2 separate regions of the Homo sapiens genome follow, and region 1 is linked to region 2. The links come from fine-mapping of genetic effects on gene expression. A gene starts in region 2. The other region holds a variant in brackets. All regions are shown on one strand. Distances are between the middles of the regions. Region 1 overlaps MICU1 (mitochondrial calcium uptake 1). Region 2 holds the start of MICU1 (mitochondrial calcium uptake 1).

Region 1 (8,000 bases), 240 kb before region 2:
TGTGTGGCACCTCCCACCTCTCTCTCTTCCTCCTGCTCTGGCCATGTGAGACGTGCCTCCTTCCTCTTCGCCTTTCACCAGGATTGTAAGTTTCCTGAGGCCTCCTCAGCCATGCTTCCTTTACAGCCTGTGGAACTGTGAGCCAATTAAGCCTCTTTTCTTTATAAATTACCCAGTCTCAGGTAGTTCTTTATAGCAATGCAAGAATTAATTAATACATCACCACAGTGCCCCCAACATCAGCAGATGCAAACACTGGAGCAATGCAGAGGAGCAAGGTAATGCGGTAGAAAACAAGGCTTGGAGTAACGGGACCTGGGCTCCAGTTCTGGCCCCACCACCAACGTGCTGTGTGACCCGGATGGAGTCACTTGATCTCTTTAGATTTAATTTTCTCATGTTCAAGTGGAGGGATGCCACCAGACAACTGCTGAGGCGGCTTACTAGCACAAAGAAGGGTTTATTGGTGTCATCTAGAATCTGAGGGTGAGGTTGGGGTGGAAATATCCCATCTTTTCTCCCAGGATCTGAGTTAGGGTGAAGAGGAAATTAACATTCTTTGGTACTAAAAGACTGAAGTATAAGATATTGTGGTGGATATTCATGAGATGTGTGTTGGGAAATCTACAAGACTATAGCGCTCTAGAGTTTAGAAATTTAGCCTCACAAATCTAGATACTTGATTTGGCTCAGGAAAAACTTATTCCTGCTAACTAAACTGTCCACAGAAGGAACAGAAATCAGGCCAATTTGCAATAAGAATAGTAACTGTTAAGAGAACTACAATGATGACAGCTGGTCATTATACTTCTCAGTAGGAAAGCTACTAAGGAAACCCCATTCACCTCAGAAGATTAACCTCAAAAGATTACTCAGTGAAAACAGAATGAGATCAGAAGGAACTGGAAGCGCTTAAACTGTGATTGCCTACAGCTTTACTCTTTGCTGCCACAGAAATGTGTCCTGAGAAGGGGATCGGAACCTGTTCTGTATTAGATAAACATGAACACTTTCTGTTAACCATTCCTTTTTCTGCATTTCACATCAACCTTAAGCTTCTGACTTCCTTTTCTCTTTCCCAGTTCTTCCATTCTCTCAGGGCACAGCCTTCTGCAATTGTCTTGATATTTCAAGTACTCATCTTCTCCCCATGAAGATGGTGCCCTTTCCTGTAAATAAACCATTAATTAAATAATACTCAAGGATGTCAGTGAGAGCTCTTGACAATTTCTAATGAGAGGCTCATTAAATTGGTATTAAGTGGTTGTAGAATAGGGACTTCTGGAGGCCTCCAGCAAGAATGCCTCATTACAGATGCCATCTCTTCACAGAAAGTTATAGATTATGTTCCATCTCACATGGAGAGGGCTCTGGTGTCCTTCCTACCATAGGAGGAAGAACTAGGGCTGCTAAGTTATTGTAGCCCAAACCACTGGGATGTTAGCCAGCAAACAGCCTAGCTGGGGTCCCCTTTCCTGGTACAAGATCCTCATTATAGGCCCCTGGGGTATGAATCAGAGTCGTGCAGGAAGCCAACATTTAATAGCTGGTGAGCTGTCAAACTAGGAGCACCTGGGATGAGTGGGATGACGGCAGATTACAAGCCAAGTGCTTGACAGCTGGTCCTGAGAGTTGGTTCATTCATATTTGCTTCCAATATCTCTGAATCCAGTCATAATCACAGCAAGCAGAACAAGTTTTCCTCCCAGATCTCAACTTTTTTATGCAGACCAGTTGTTGGTACTGGAATTCTGGCCTCCCTATTTGATGATGCTGACTGATGGTTGGGATTCCAGCTCCCAATCTGAAAGATGTCTACAGGGAGCATGAAGGCACCCCAGCGAAGGCCTAGCTTTCTAAATACTACGTATTTTTGTACAAATCTGGCCCAGCTGCCTGAACAAAGGGTTTAAGTGCGATTGGGTGATTCCTATTAGATTGGGATGGGAGAGAATTTGTAGAAGTGGGCTCAACTAGTACTCAAAAATCTGGCACCATCTGGCTTTTTGCAAAGTCCAGGCAGAATCCGAGTTGTGTCAGGTCCCCAATTTACTCTCCAGCATGATTCATGACTGGCTGTTTCAACAGTAAAAAGAAACCCTGAGTTTGTGTGATATAATATCAGAAACTACATACATAAATCTATTCACCACAATAGTTAAACAGAAGAGCTCTGAAGTGATGAGAGCCCAAATGTCCACTTGGAATCAGAGAATCTTAGAACTGGAAGATACCTCAGAGGAAATGTGACGTTAAATAATTTGCCCAGGGTCACAATGCTAGATGGTAACAGAGCTGGGTCTCGAATTTTGGCTGGTGCCCTTTCCCTATACACACTGGGTCCACATGATCCCTTCCATATATGGACAATATCAATTCCTCCATGACATGAATCTGTCACCCTGAGGAGAAAGGGTTTAGATTAAAGAAAAGTCACATGGGAAATACTCAAGTCCTTTTGGTGAGGGATGAATGAATAATTGAATAACTGGGAGTTGTGAGGCACCAGCATTAATTATAGGTTGGCCGTGGATCTGACTACCCCCTACAGTGGAAGACACTGAGTATTCCCTAGGAACTCATACCGACAATTTTAGGGACAACTTAAAAAGTGTATTCAACAGCAATCCAACGAAAAGCACATGTAACGAATGTGGCCCTGGGAGTTTTTCTCCACAGCTGCCTCTGATGCACAGATACAGCTTTAGGCAGCATGACCCAGTTAGGAGCTACCTGCCTCTTCCTAATGCAAAAGTGTTTGGAAAGGTGGTATGACAAGTTGGGCTGACAGTCTCTAAGCTGTGTGGCCATGTACTATTCCTGCCTTACCGGACTGCAGTGGAGAAAATCAAAAGCTGACTGGTGATGGCCAAGGTTAAGTGAGGGGAGATGGTTCTGCTTCAGCCCTGGAAAGGCTGATGCAGATGTCTTGTTTTCTTAAGTCCATCCCTAGATGGCTTTGGGTGGAACAAGGGGGAGGATATTTCCTTAAAGAGCATGTGTCCTGTCTTTTGTATCTCCTTCCATGAGCTTTTGTTAATACAAATGCACATTTTAACCTAGTTCTGGGGTGAGGGGAGGGGAAACGACAACATTTAGGAGAACTAGCAATTTAAGGAGCCAAGAGCAATGCAGCCTACAAGTAATGGAAATGATAACAATTCCTTGTTCTGTACGGTGCTCTTAGGCCCTATGCCCGCTGACCCCCTGTGTACTCAGGCTGCCTGACTGTCAGAGGTGATGCTGCTAATCCTAGCTCCTAACTTCCAGGACACACCACGGAGAAGATCTGTTTTCTGAGCCTGAGCGCATCATCCCAGATGATGGCTTCAATGGGCTTACACGCTTAATTTGGTACAAACTAACTTGGCAGTAAGATTTATTGCCATTGTCTAGTATTGTATCTGGGTTTATTAAAAATCCCCATCACATCTTTTCCACAAAGGGCTAGCATTTCTGCAAGCATCATTAGGTAGTCAATGATTTCAGCTGACACACCCATGGGACAATCACAGTTTGGTGGAGGAGACTGTGTATATATATATCTATACACACACACACACACACACACACACACACACACACACACACATTAAGATGGAGAAACACGTAGAAGAGACAGATATCAGATATATTAATACACACATATGGGAAATAATGGAATAGTGTGTATTTGGTACGAGTTACATTTTGGATCTGAATTCTTTTTTTTTTTTGAGACAGTCTTGCTCTGTCGCCCAGGCTGGAGTGCAGTGGTGCGATCTCGGCTCATTGCAACCTCGCCTCCCGGGTTTAAGTGATTCTCCTGCCTCAGCCTCCCTAGTAGCTGGGATTACAGGTGCCTGCCACCACGTCCGGCTAATTTTTTTTTTTTTTTAGTAGAGACAGGGTTTCGCCATGTTGGCTAGGCTGGTCTCGAACTCCTGACCTCAGGTGATCCACCCGCCTTGACCTCCCAAAGTGCTGGGATTACAGGCATGAGCCACCGCGCCTGGCCTGTATCTGAATTCTAAGGGAGAAAAGAGACCAACTGCGCATGTATGGTAGTGAGTGATGTGGGTTGGGGGTTTCTGTTTGAATACAGTATTAAAAGCAGGAAGGAGTGCTAAGGCCTGATTAGAGAGTTAGAACAGAAGGTGCAGGGGGTGAGTACATTAGGAGAAATCTTACAGAGGACTAGTCAAGTCTCCTTGCAAGAAAGTCTTTAAAACAGGCCAAGTGTGGTGGCTCACGCCTGTAATCCCAGCACTTTATGAGGCCAAGGCAGGCAGATCACCCGAGCTTAGGAATTCAAGACCAGACTGGCCAACATGGCGAAACCCCGTCTCTACTAAAAATACAAAAATTAGCCAGGCGTGGTGGCACATGCCTGTAATCCCAGCTACTCAGGAGGCTGAGGCAAGGGAATCACTTGAACCCGGGAGGCGGAGGCTGCAGTGAGCCAAGATCACGCCACTGCACTCCAGCCTGGGCGACAGAGCAAGCCTCCGTCCAATAGTAACTTGCTTTTCCCTCTCACATTGTTTAAATATTCATTCTGTTAGCTTTATTTTAAAAGTTGTTTTTAATTAGGACAGGTGCAGTGGCTCATGCTTATAATCCTAGTGGTTTGGGAGGCCAAGAATGAGACCAGCCTGGGCAATAGAGGAAGACCTCATCTCTACGAAAAATTTTAAAAAACATTAGTTGGGCACGATGGTGCGCTCCTGCAGTCCTAGCTACTTGGGAAACTGAGGTGGGAGGATTACCTGAGCCCAGGAGTTCAAGTCTGCAGTGAGCTATGACTGCACAACTGTACTCCAACCTAGGCAACAGAGCAAGACCCTGTCTCAAAAAAAAAAAAAAAAAGATGTTTTTGATTCGCTAATATAGTCATCTGCTTCAAAATTTGAATGGTACAAAAGGGGTGAAGTCTCTCTCCCAACCTTATACCCCAGTCACCCAGTCATTCAGAGACAATCAAT[G/A]TCACTAGTTTCCCCAGAAATATTTTGTAGATATAAAATCAAATATGTACTCTTCGCTTCTTCCCTTTTCCCACAAAATGGTGGTGTACTAAATATTGTTTTGCTTTACTCACTTAACAACATATCTTAGAAATAATTCCAGATGGACATGAGCAGCTTCCTTCAATAGCTGCATAGTATTCCACTGACAGGATGGATCATAATTTCCTTGTTTATTTAACCAGTTCCTTATTTATTCTTATCTCAATCTTGAGAAGAAGGTACCTTTTCCCCTTCTCTTTAAAAAATTATTTCCTTTGTGGTCTGTGGGGGTCAGCTATAACAGAGTCTGAATCTCTGATGGCTAAACTGAGAGTAACTGATATATTTAAATTCAGTTTGTTGAAATTAAAGACTAAATAGTCACCTTTACAAGTGTCTTTTTTGTTTGTTTTTTTGAGACAGGGTCTTGGTTCTGTTGCTCAGGCTAGAGTGCTGTGGCAAGATCATGGCTCACTGCAACCTCTGCCTCCTGGGCTCCTGATTCTCCCGCCTCAGCCTCCCTAGTAACTGGGACTACAGGTGTGGATTACCACACCTGGCTAGGTTTTGCATTTTTAAACAATTTTATTAAAAAAAAATTTTTTTTTAATTGAGACAGGGTCTTGCTCTGTTGCTCAGGCTGGAGTGCAGTAGTGAGGGCACAGCTCACCACAGCCTCAACATCCTGGGCTCAAATGATCCTCCCGCCTCAGCCTCGGAAGTAGCTAGGACTACAGGCTCGCGCCACCATGCCTGGCTAATTTTTGTATTTTTTTGTAGAGATGGGGTTTCACCATGTTGCCCAGGCTGGTCTTGAACTCCTGGGCTCAAGCGAACCACCCACCTTGGCCTCCCAAAGTGCTGGGATTATAGGCTATGAGCCACTGGGCCCAGCCACAGTGTCTTATTAAACCTTCCGAGGCTTCTCAAGGTAGTAAACCTTGAAACCCCCAAAGAAGCAATGCTTATAATAAATACTCCCTCTACACTTTCCCGATATTGATGTAATTCTAGTAATCATTCTTTTTCTGATCTTTTTCTCAGTGGGATGTAATGTTGGCTGATTTTGTCTTTCCTTATCTATTTATGTGGATGCTTTAACAGTTTATCCTACCCCCATCTCTTCTCTTTGTGATGTAATTCATGATGGTAATCATGAATCCCTAAAGCAGCTCTCCTCCTCCTTAGGGCACTTACCTAATTTTACTAAATCATAATATATTCAAAGTGATCATAAGCCAGAATCAATCTTTAGAATTGCTAAGTGACTTTAAATTTGGGAAAATAAACCAGGCCTCTGCAGAGAAAATGCCTCATAAAGCAAACATTTATTTCAGAATTTGAGCTTCCTTGCCTACATCATGAATAATTTTACTTTAAAAATTGATGACTCTGTCTTAAATGAATGGAATCCTGGCCAACACTCCTCTTCACATATAAATGTTTTTACCAAATGTAATGATGAACTGAAGTGCAAGAGCTTGCCTCCCACAAACTTTAAAAGAATTTATAAAATAGGAGCTTTTTTCCTGTTGTAATCTCTTCCTTACATGTCTTTGTGACACTCCTGCCTTCCTGCCATGTCTTGGCTGTCTGGGGGATGCTCTCCCTACATTCTTGCTGTGAATTTGCCCCACTTTCCGGCATCACATAAAAGCATTGAGTCCTCGATGTAATTCTCTAGGTCCTTCTAGCAGCAGTAGGTGCCAGGGTACTAATGAGAACCCTGGTGTGGAAGTCGCTGAACCTGAACTTCTGGTCTGTGATTTCAGCAAGTCATTTCCCTTTATGAATGTTAAAAACAAGCAGGCCGGGCACAGTGGCTCACGTCTATAAATCCAACACTTTGGGAGGCCGAGCTGGGCAGATCACCTGAGGTCAGGAGTTCAAGACCAGCCTGGCCAACATGGTAAAACCCTGTCTCTACTAAAAATATATAAATTAGCTGGGCGTGGTGGTGTGTGCCTGTAATCCCAGCTAACTGGGAGGCTGAGACAGGAGAATCACTAGAACCCAGGAGGCGGAGGTTGTAGTGAGCTGAGATCATGCCACTGCACTCTAGCCTAGGTGACAGAGCAAGACTGTCTCAAAAAAAACCAACCAAACAAACAAAAAACCAAAAAACAAAGTAAGGGTTTAAACAAAATGATTTTTAAGTTATCTTCCAGCCCTAAAATTTAAATCAGTTTAAATGTCCCTATCTTCAGAATAATAAAACCAAAGGTGTAGGTTTCTAAAATGATGGCTGGTGTGCTGAGCAGAATTCTGACGTGCCCCCCGCCCAGTATTTCCACCCTCTGGTCCACATATCCTGTGTAATCCCCTCTCCTCAGGTGGGCAGAACCTGTGACTACGATAATCCTGTGATGAGGTTACTGTATATGAGAAAGGTGATGGGCTAGTCAGTCCCATAACTATGTTATGTAAGAATCCATCTTAGCAGACTGAGGCGAGAGATTCTGTTGCTGGCTCTGAAGAAGTGAGTTGCCATGCTGTGAGGGGCCTGGTGGCAAGGAGCTGTAGTCACCTGCTGAGAGCAATGACTGGCCAACAGCCAGCAAGGAAAAGGAATCCTTGGTCCTACAACTGAAAGGACCTGAATTCTGCCAACAGCAGGAAAGAACTTTGAAGAGGACCCTGAACTCCGGATGAAAATGAAGGCCCCCCAACAACACTGCGATTTCATCCTTGTTAAGATCCTAAGCAGAGAACCCAGCTATGCTGTGCCAACACTCTGAATCACAGAAACTGGCCAGTGGGGAAGGCATTTATGATTGGGAATGTCTTTTTTTTTTGGAGGGGGACGGAGTCTCGCTCTGTCGCCCAGGCTGGAGTACAGTGGCGTGATCTTGGCTCACTACAACCTCTGCCTCCCGGGTTCAAACAATTATCCCACCTTAGCCTTCTGAGTAGCTGGGATTACAGGTGCCCACCACCACACCAGGCTAATTTTTGTATTTTTAGTAGAGACGGGGTTTCCCCATGTTGGCCAGGCTCGTCTTGAACTCCTGACCT
Region 2 (11,569 bases):
TAAAGTGGTTTTGGATGGGCGCAGTGGCTCACGCCTATAATCCCAGCACTTTGGCTAGCAGATCACCTGAGGTCAGGAGTTCGAGACCAGACTGACCAACATGGTGAAACCCCATCTCTACTTAAAATACAAAAAAAAAATAGCCAGCCGTGGTGGTAGGTGCCTGTAATCCCAGCTACTTGGGAGGCTGAGGCAGGAGAATTGCTTGAACCCAAGAGGCGGAGGTTGCAGTGAGCCAAGAACGCGCCATTGCACTCCAGCCTGGGCGACAAGTGTAAAACTCCGTCTCAAAAAATAATAATAATAATAAAAAAATAAAGTGGTTTCTATACTAACAGATTTTTAAACATAAAACAATGAAAAGAACCAAGTATTTAATCATATCCACAACATGTATTTAAATATTTAAAACATTTTTATTTACTATTTATTAACTGCAGTTACTAATCAAGTTCACCCAAAGCAATAAAAATATCAAGAATTTATTTTAACAAGCTGGCTAATACATAATATATTTAAAGTTATAAAACCTGAATATTCCAGAGCAGGGGTACTAAACATGTAATAACAGTACAGATACACACACTGGAAGAGTGTAAATTTTTTCAAGTTCTTTAAGTGATTATAATAGGCATTAAAAATAGAAAAAAATCAACACATAAACTGTAAATACAATTTTTTATATTGCAAAAGGAAACCAAGTTCTCTTATTTATTTATTTATTTATTGAGCCAGAATCTTGCTCTGTCGCCCAGGCTGGAGTGCAGTGGCACGATCTCAGCTCACTGCAAGCTCTGCCTCCCAGGTTCACGCCATTCTCCTGCCTCAGCCTCCCCGGAGTAGCTGGGACTACAGGCGCCTGCCACCACACTCGGCTAATTTTTTGTATGTTTGTTTTTTTAGTAGAAACGGGGTTTCACCATGTTAGCCAGGATGGTCTCGATCTCCTGACCTCGTGATCTGCCGGCCTCAGCCTCCCAAAGTGCTGGGATTACAAGCGTGAGCCACCGCGCCCGGCCCCAAGTTCTCTTAATTAAAAAAAAAAAAAAAACATGAAAATTATTTTAGTGAACATCTGTTGTTTTTGCCTGTCCAGCAACCAATTGCTCTTCTCCAGAAAGCATCACCTCAATTTTTCTTTAGGAACTGTCACCCACCCTTAACTCAAATGGTTTCAAACTATATTCCTCTCCTTCCCACTCCAGGATAGGGACAAATTCCAAGCCTAGCCACACAAAGCATTCCATCACTCTGGCCACAGGGACTGCCTCTAGGATGGGCAAAGACCCAAGTCAGGTCAATGAAACTACCATACAGTGGTGCGCTGGAACTGTAGAGAAAGGGAAATTCTCTTTCTTCTTGGGTTTCTGAGGTTGAAGGAAGTAAGCCTAGTGCTGGTATTACAATCTTTCCCAGGGAATCTGACTCCAAAGCCTTACTTTTCCACACTGAATCCCAAATATGCAAAGGGAACTAGTGGTTACCTGGTAGTAAGAGAAAAGATAAATTAGGACTTTGACTTTCAATATTGTATTTTCGATAATGTTTCCATTTTCCAAAAATAAGCATATTACTTCAATAATAGGAAATTTAAAATGTTTAAAAATATTGCCCGTGTTTTCTTCTCAAACATGCTTATTCATATTTCAATATCTTAAAAGTATTAACAATTTTCTCATAATTTACCAAAGCACATAGAATATCCATCTAAAAACAATCACCTTCTTCTCCTGGCACAAAATAAAGCTATTACAATATTTTCATTTTTAAATTATGAGTGGGAGGCCAGGTACAGTGGCTCACACCTCTAATCCCAGCAATTTGGGAGGCTGAGGCGGGCGGATCACTTGAGGTCAGGGGTTCGAGACCAGCCTGGCCAACATAGTAAAACCCCATCTTTACTAACAATACAAAAATTAGCCGGGCGTGGTGGCGCACGCTCCTGTAATCCCAGCTACTTACGAGGATGAGGCAGAAGAATCACTTGAACCCCGGAGGCAGAGGTTGCAGTGAGCCAAAATCGCGCCATTGCACTGTAGCCTTGGCAACGAGAGTGAAACTCTGTCAAAAAGACAAGACAGAGCGAGACTCCGTCTCAAAAAAAAAAAAAAAAAAAAAGACAAGAAAAGAAAAGGGAAGGGGAGGGGAGGGAGAAAGAAAGGGAGAAGAAAGAAAAAAAGAAAAGAAAAGAAAGAAAAAGAAAATATGTGTGGAAAAAACAGTTGAGTAAACCTTTTTAAAAAAACTGGTTCTAGTGGCTAGGCATGGTGGCTTGTACCTGCAATCCCAGAACTTTGGGAGGCCAAGGCGGGAGGATCGCTTGAGTCTGGGAGTTCCAAGACTAGCCTGGGTAGGCCAGGTGTGGTGGCTCAGGCCTGTAATCCCAGCATTTTGGGAGGCCGAGGCAGGTGGATCACCTGAGGTCGTCAGGAGTTCGAGACTAGCCTGGCCAACATGTAAAACCCCATCTCTACTAAAAATACAAAAATTAGCCAGATGTGGTGCCGCGCCTGTAGTTCCAGCTACTTCGGAGGCTGAAGCAGGAGAATTGCTTGAACCCAGGAGGCAGAGGTTGCAGTGAGCCGAGATCACACCACTGCACTCCAGCCTGGGCAACAGAATGAGACTCCGTCCCCACCCCTCAACAAAAGGACCAGCCTCGGCAAAATGGCTGAACCCCATCTCCATTTAATTAATTAATTAATTAATTAAAAACTGGTTCTTATTTTAAAAGGGATACACTAAACAACTGCATATGGAAAAAATGGTTAATGTTCAGCAAGTGCTGCAGCCATTGTAAAAATGGCTCAAGAGATAAAGCTAACTTTAAAGACTGAAGGTGGCAAAATTGGGTTTAAAAAAGCTTTATCAATTATATTAGTCCTATAACTCTGAATAGCATAAGATCTGAAGGAGTTGGTCAGTTAAATATTTCAATTATAATTATTTTGCATAATATTGCATTATGGAGAAATTTCATATCGTTTTATTCTTTTGTTGTTGTTTTAAGAGACAGGGTATCGCTCTGTCGCCCAAGCTGGAGTGCAATGGTACGATCACAGCTCACTGCAGCCTCAACCTCGAGGGCTCAAGCCATCCTCCTGTCTCAGCCTCCCAAGTAGCCAGGACTACAGGCATGCGCCCAGCTAATTTTTGTGTTTTGTAGAGATGGTCTTGCCATATTGCCCAGGCTGGTCTCAAACTCCTAGATTCAAGGGATCCACCCGGCCTCCCAAATTGCTGGGATTATGGGCCTGAGACACCACACCCAGCCTGTTTTATTCTTAAACACAGGAAAGTTAGTCTCAAGATGCACTTCTTAGGAATGTAAACAATCTACTGAATATAGTAAATATAAAGGAAGACAGCAATAAACACTTTTGTTCTCTTGCATTTATTAGCTTCTATTAGTTTCTATCATTCTTTCCCTTTCTCCTCAGGCACACAAGCCACTCCAGAATATTCACTTTTTGTTAATATTATGTTTTATGGCTCTCAGTAAGGACACTCAGAAGATGTCAGAGACACTTGCTTGATATATTAGGTAGCCAGAGTGATGTTCTTAAGTGGAAGAGACAATCAGGGACAAACCAAGGATTGGGACAAAGAGTAGCTGGAGGCAAAAGCCACCTTCCTACAGACAAGTGGCAATGGGTTCTAAAGTTTTTAGGATAAGGCAATATTCAAAAAGCTCATTACCTGGTCCACACCAGAAACACAGTAGGTGGGTCATTCTGGCCAACACCTTTGTCTCAAGATACTGACGTTTATTATTTGTCATATGGTCCAATGAAACCTAAACTCTCCTACAGCTATCCACACCGAACTTGTTTCACCTCATGAAATGCAAACTCCTTTCTTATACTGCTCGATCACTTCCCTACGTGCCCCAAAGGGATGTTCTAATATAAACAAAGGCATATCAAAGAAGCCACCCAAACAAGTGAGATAGAAACATTTATTGATAAATAGGAAGAAAATGGGCGTTTCTAAGGTACCACAGGAAAAATAAAATATTTTACTCTAGTCCCTTAGCTATAAGATATTTATTCTACTTATATTTACTAATGGCCACCGTATTTTTTAAGACATGGAAAATTGGAAGGTAAAGAAACCATCAACCATAAGATTACAGAGAAGGCAACTTGAAGAACAGTTTGTTTTAAACTGTTCTCCCAACATTCACATAGAGTCAATAACATCTAGCTCTTTCTCAAAACAGCCTATGGCCGGCCAGAATGCGACGGTGAAAACAAAACAGGGAGAACGTAATGAAAACGGGAAGGCGCTGGAAAAGATAAAAACTGAACAGTCCGAGTAGCCTGCACTTTGTATTTCTCCTTTGAGTCCTCACTGATTTTCCACTTATTTCGATTCAGTGGTTAATATTTCTCCGTATTAGAAATCCATCTGTGAACTCCCGCACCCACTTCTAACCACATCCACAAATTCCAGGAGAGCCAGTCAAGGCTACCAGAGTGTCCCAGTCGCCTGTGAGGAGGGGGGCGTCGGCGCCAAGTTGCGAACCCGGCACTGGGAGAAGTTCTCCCGGGACGGGAGAAGGGACGGGTTGGGGTGAAGGAAAGTGGAGGACGGGAGGCAAGCAAGACTACGGACTCCTCTCCAAAAGCTGAGCGCATCAGGGAGAGACAGGTATCCCGCCAGACCCGAGAAGTAGCCGGATGCCCGGGGCGGACAAACGGCCAGCCACGAAGCCCAGTTCCCTAAGGCTGTCTCGCCAACCCCCTTCCCCTTCGCCTTCCCTAAATTGCTGTCTCCTTATACCCTCCAGAGTCCAAGACTCACGCGTCCAAACACGAGCTCCAGCAGCCTCTCGGTCAAAGCCGCCCACCTCTGACAGCCATAGAGATGAAACAGCGGAGACAAACCTCCACCCCCTCCGCCCACTCTCACGTGACTCTCCTAGCCGCTGGGCCTGTCGGGATCGTGGAGACAGGCGTGTGGGAGGGGCACAGAGGAAAAGGAACGGGGAGGGGCGGGGAAATCAACGCGCCACGCCCCAGCCTCGGGCCCCGCCCTAGCCCCGTCACTCCCCCTTACTCCCCTCAGCGTTTAGGCGGGAAAGCTGGAGAGCTCCCAGAAGCTCTCGGGCATTTCTTCTGGTTTTTTTCCCCTCCACAAGGGTCATAGGAATCTGTTGAGAAATTTACTGTGGCTTGTAACACCTCCTCGGTACCCGTTTTCGTGTTGGCTATGTTGGCTAAGCAAAAAGGAGTTCGTGAAAAGAAAACTGGACCACAGTGAGTTGGAAATTGTTTCTTTCCAACTCCGTTTAGGTTTTCTCAGAGATTAAATGTTCCTGTTTCATAACCTTGAGACTTTTTTGGATTTAGAAACCCTCACCACTTCCTCTGGTGGATGATTTTGTCAGGTGTTTTATTTGCAGACTAATATTATTGCAGAGTTTATAATCTCTAGAAGCCACTTAAAAACATGTTTTCCCTTGAAGAATGTGTTTTTTGTTTGTTTGTTTGTTTGTTTGTTTTGAGATAGAGTTTCACTCTTGATGCCCAGGCTGGAGTGCAGTGGAGCGATCTCGGCTCTCTGCAATCTCTGCCTCCTGGGTTCAAGCGATTCTCCTGCCTCAGCCTCCCAAGTAGCTGGGATTACAGGCATGCGCCACCACGCCCTACTAATTTGTATTTTTGGTAGAGACGGGGTTTTTCCATGTTGGTCAGGCTGGTCTGGAACGCCCGACCTCAGGTGATCCGCCCACCTCGGCCTCCCAAAGTGCGAGGATTACAGGCGTGAGCCACTGCGCCCGGCTGAAGAAGGTGTTTTTATCAGAAAAATGGGATGGCAAAGGATCCTCACCCCTGCTGTGGAAATAGGATGGAAATATGACTATAATACCAGAGAATTTTTTTGGGGGGGGGGCAGCGGGGTGTTGGTTGGTTGTTTGTTCGTTTGTTTTGAGACGGAGTCTCGCACTGTCGCCCAGGTTGGAGTGCAGTGATGCTCACTGCAACATCCTCCTCCCAGGTTCAAGTGATTCTTCTGCCTCAGCCTCCCGAGTAGCTGAGATTACAGGCACGCCCCACCACGCCCGGCTAATTTTTGTATTTTTAGTACAGACGGGGTTTCGCCATGTTGGGCAGGCTAGTCTCAAACTCCTGACCTCGGGCGATCCTCCCGTCTCGGCTTCCCAAAGTGCTGGGATTAACAAGTGCGAGCCACCTCGCTGGTCCCAGAGAACTTTCAAATAATTTTTTTTTCCCAAGAATTTACGTAGCAGAGCTGTGGAAAAGGCAACAACCATGGAAACAAAGCCAACAAAACCATCCCTGGGGTAAATTGTGAAGTAAGCAGAATCAACTCTGTTTTCTCCATTTCTTCTCAGACCCAACTAACCTAAGTACAATAGATGATTGTGTTCATGGCTCTGTGCTAGCGCTTTACATACAACCCAGTGCTTGTCTACAACCACTCTAGGATGGATACTGTTTTATTCATTTGCAGATAGGGAAGCAGGCTGACACCCCTAGGTAATGCAGTACATGCAGTAGCGGGACATAGACCTGACCTGAAGGCCTCTGAGGCTTCCACTCTTAAATGATGTAATTCAGGCCGGGCGCGGTGGCTCACGCCTGTAATCCCAGCACTTTGGGAGGCTGAGGCGGGCGGGTCAGGAGATCGAGACCATCCTGGCTAACACGGTGAAACCCTGTCTCTACTAAAAATACAAAAAATTAGCCAGGCGTGGTGGCGGGCGCCTGTAGTCCCAGCTACTCGGGAGGCTGAGACAGGAGAATGGCAGGAACCCGGGAGGCAGAGCTTGCAGTAAGCCAAGATCGTGCCACTGCACTCCAGCCTGGGCGACAAAGCGAGACTCCGTCTCAAAAAAAGAAAGAAAGATTTGCTGAAATTCAATTCTAATTTTAGGCAACATTTGTCTATATAAAACTAATCAGTCAAACTAACTGTTAAATAACATTTAAAAACATAAATCATTGTTTCTCAAACGTTTTGGTCTTAGGACCCCTATACACTTAAAAATTATTGAGGACTCAAAATAACTTTTATTTATGTGTGTTATACCTATCGATATTTACCATATTCGGCCAGGCAGAGGCTAATACCTATAATCTCAGCATTTTGAGAGACTGAGATGGGATGATCACGTGAGGCTAGGACTTTGAGGCTACAGTGAGCTATGATCATGCCACTGCACTCCAGCCTGCGCAACAGCGCAAGAACCTGTCTCTATAAACTTTTTTTAATTTAGCATATGAGGACTTAAAATTGAGGCCGGGTACAATGGCACCCAGCACTTTGGGAGGCAGAGGCGGCAGATCACCTGAGGTCATGAGTTCGAGACCATCTTGGCCAACATGGTGAAACCCTATCTCTACTAAAAATACAAAAATTAGCCAGGCATGGTGGCACACGCCTGTAATCCCAGCTACTCAGGAGGCTGAGGTAGGAGAATCGCCTGAATCCGGTAGACAGAGGTTGCAGTGAGCCAGGATCATGCCACTGCACTCCAGCCTAGGCCTCAGTGACAGAGCAAGACTCAGTCTCAAAAAAAAAAAAGAGAAAAGAAAGAAAATTAAAATTGAAATTATTTTAATGTGTACTTAGTCATTTAAAAATAATAGATCCATTATATGTTGACATAAATAATGTATTCTTAAGAAAAACAACTTCAAAAAAAAAGAGTAGCATGGTTTTACATTATTGCAAATTTCTTTTCTTTTTTTTTGAGACAGAGTCTCACTGTGTCGCCCAGGCTGGAGTGCAGTGGCACGATCTCGGCTCACTGCAACCTCTGCTTCCCGGTTTCAAGTGATTCTCCTGCCTCAGCCTCCTGAGTAGCTGGGATTACAGGCGCATGCCACCACGCCCGGCTAATTTTTTTGTATTTTTAGTAGAGACGGGGTTTCACCATGTTGATCAGGCCGGTCTCAAACCCCTGACCTCGTGATCCGCCCACATCGTCCTCCCAAAGTACTGGGATTACAGGCATGAGCCACTGTGCCCGGCTGCAAATTTCTTTAATGTCTGGCTTAATAGAAGACAGATTCTTGTATCTTTTCTGCATTAAATGTTTGCACTCTTACACTTCATGTAGCCTCTGGCAAACTCTACTATATACTCAAGAAAGAATTAGAGCGATAAGGCAAATAACAGTGTATTAGTAAGAAAACAGTCTTGACCTTACAGATTACTAGAAAGGGTTTCAGGAAACCTCCAGTGGTCTTTGACCACACTTTGAGAACCACTGTTTTAAACCATACAAATGTTAAATGCTATTGTATATTTTGTCTAGTCATTTTGGCATCAAGTAGAACATTTAATGGAAAGGAGAACAAGACAGAGACAATTTACAGACTAGGCCAATCTTATACAAATAAATATGAGATGTGAGTATTCTTTCTTCATTTCTTTTTTTTTTTCTTTTTTTGAGACGGAGTCTTGCTGTGTCACCCAGGCTAGAGTGCAGTGGCACAATCTTGGCTCACTGCAACCTCCACCTCCCAGGTTCAAGTGATTCTCCTGCCTCAGCCTCCTGAGTAGCTGGGATTACAGGCATGCGCCACCATGCCTGGCTAATTTTTGTGTTTTTAGTAGAGATGGGGTTTCACCATTTTGGCCAGGCTGGTCTCGAACTCCTGACCTCGTGATCCACCCGCCTCAGCCTCCCATAATGCTTGGATTACAGGCGTGAGCCACCGCATCTAGCTCCTTCTTCATTTCCAAGAGTATAGAGTAAGTTAGCAGAATTCAAGGTCATAACCAAACACAGCTATATTCTACATTAGAAATCTGTCCATCAATTCAGTATTGTTTTTCAGGATGCTATGCAATGTGTTCCGAGTCATATAAATGTATGATATCACTAATCAAGGTTTATATCTCCTGTACAAACTAATAATAAGACTCCTCTGGTGACCAATAAAATTTGAAGTCAAAATTCTTTCACAGACATATATTGAATACCTACATATTAATATATGTAATGCTCACAACTAGTGCTGGGCTTGTAAAAATTTATAAGCTCGATTCCTGCCCTTGGGCAACTTGTATCTATAATGAGACTTGCACCACCGTAAAAATGTATTTTTTAACAAGTTCAGTAGTTCCCAAACCAGTCTGGTGATCAAATGCCTGGGAATTATCTGAGGAGATTTTTAAAATACAGATTCTTGGATCATGAGACACACTGCTTCAGTGAACCAGGGTGATGCTCTGGAATCTGGATTTTAAAAGTCCCAGGTGATTCCCCTGCAATGATAGGATTGGGAATGAATACTAAGTCCTGTATACTTGACAAATAGATTTGATCTTTGCCCCCAGGACTATCATACTATCATATGCAAAATATAATGTTTATTTATTTCATCTTCAGTATTTCAAAAGTGTGTTGTGTTGAAAGATCTGTGTTATCAAGGGACAGTATTTAATGTCATTCACTAAAAATAGAAATTGGTGTCCTTATGTCATACATTTTATAGTTCATCTATTCTTATCACATTAAAATAATATGTGTTACCACAGCAGTCTCCAACATATCACACCACTGTAAAAAACAAAAACATCTTTTGCAACAAGTATCAGACTACAAAAAGTTTATTTTCTAAAGCTTTCATTCAGTTTCTTTAAAATGAATTCAATGAGATGGTCTTTGTTTTATTACACTTATCTTCAGGGTTCCATAGATTATGGTATCTCAAAACCTATGCAGTCGTCCATCACAAACTCCTTTTGAATATATATATCAGAGACAGAGACAGAGAAACAAAGAGACAGAGAGTCTTAGAGTCTTACTCTGTCGCCCAGGCTGGAATGCAGTGCACCATCTCAGCTCACTGCAGCCTCAACCTCCCAGGCTCAAGTGATCCTCCCGCCTCAGCCTCCTGAGTAGCTGAGACTACAGGTGCAAACCACCAGCCCTGGCTAATTTTTTGTAATTTTTGTAGAGACAACATATCACTATGTTGCCCGGGCTGGTCTCGAACTCCTTGGCTCAAGAGATCCACCCACCTTGGCCTCCCAAAGTGCTGAGATTACAGGTGTGAGCCACCACACCCAACCTTTTTGAAGTTATATTGTACTTGAGTAGCTATCTAGAGACTTATGACCCATAGTTGTTCTTGCAGTGAGTATTCTTCTCTAATACTTATAGCCAGAATTAATTATGTTCAAATAAATATGAAAAAAATTTTAAAAAAGCTTAAATGTTTCCTGGCTTTTTACCACTAGGAGGTGGGAGGATGGCATAAATATGATGATTTATAAAAATTGACATATTCTCCTTGATTTTATGATTGAAACTAACTTCAAAATTAAAGAATCTCTGCCCAGATCTTGATTTCTGAACTACCTTTCTCCACAAAAAGGAACTAAGTCTTCTTGAAAACAGGGCTGGTTTCAAGTCTACAGCAGGAATGTACAAGATGACCTGGAACATCTTGTTGTGTCCAAAAGTAAGGAAGCAATCAGAAAATAAAATGAGGACATGTCAAAGGGAGCCAGCTTGAAGGCCCATCACTGGCCAAATCTGGGATAATTGGAGTACCAGCATAAGAACAGTAATAAGTGGCTGGGCGGGATGGCTCACGCCTGTAATCCCAGCACTTTGGGAGGCCGAGGCGGGCATATCACAAGGTTAAGAGATTGAGACCATCCTGGCCAACATGGTGAAACCGTGTCTGTACTAAAAAAATACAAAAGTTAGCTGAGTGTGGTGGTGCGTGCCTGTAGTCCCAGCTACTCGGGAGGCTGAGGCAGGAGAATCGTTTGAACCCAGGAGGCAGAGGTTGCAGTGAGCCAAGATCACACCACTACACTCCAGGCTGGCAACAGAGCCAGACTGTCTCAAAAGAAAAAAAAAAAAAGAACAGTAGTAAGTTACAGCCACTGAATAAAATAAGAATCCAACAATCTATATTAAGGAGAGAAAGAGAAATGGGGAAATCAGACAGTGGCTTTCCTTAAAGTAGACTACTTGCTGATAAATCCAAAGAGAGTGGTGGAGTTGGGAAAACCACCATTTTGCAACTATCATGGTAAAGATTGGTTTGGGCAAACATTATCAGTTAAATCCGGCAGGGGTTGGGCAGGGAATTTTATGAGAAGCAGGGTATTTTTATGTTTCAAAGCATCTCCCCACAGATTTTATATTTTTTACAAAAGGAAATGGTAACTATATAACAGAAACTATGCAACACTTTGATCCCTATGATATAGTACTCTGAGAAGAACACAATATCACTTGAATCTGATCATGAGGAAATATCAACCAAACCCATATTGAGGAGCATTCTGTGAAATAACCATCATGAAAGGAAAAAAATGGCAGAGGAACTAACTATTCCATATTAAAAGAGACTAAGGAGACTTGACCAAAAAAAGTCAGTACATGATCCTAAATTGGAACTTATACCAGAAGGGGCAAATGCTATAAAATATCCATTGGAACAATTGACAAAATTGGAATGTGGACCGCAGATTAGATAAAAGTAGCTCCTACATTTGACAACTGTGGTGATTATTAAAAGGAATATCTTTTTTCTTAGTAAGTATACACTAAAGTATGAAGAGGAAA

What was found. PIP is the estimated chance that this variant, and not a neighbour inherited with it, causes the effect.
Region 1: its variant is fine-mapped to the expression of MICU1 in whole blood (INTERVAL, PIP above 0.99).

Annotation. Positions count from the first base shown.
Region 1 is chr10:72,378,415-72,386,414 of GRCh38, forward strand. The region is part of intron 10 of MICU1 (mitochondrial calcium uptake 1); the gene reads right to left. Among named protein-coding and RNA genes, the nearest start is that of DNAJB12, 27 kb to the left of the region's middle. The variant G/A (reference allele first, on the strand shown) is at 4,965.
Region 2 is chr10:72,621,204-72,632,772 of GRCh38, forward strand. MICU1 (mitochondrial calcium uptake 1) reads right to left here and starts at 4,876. Exons shown (of 12, transcript NM_001195518.2): 1 at 4,807-4,876. RefSeq lists enhancers at 4,643-5,180, 4,731-4,880.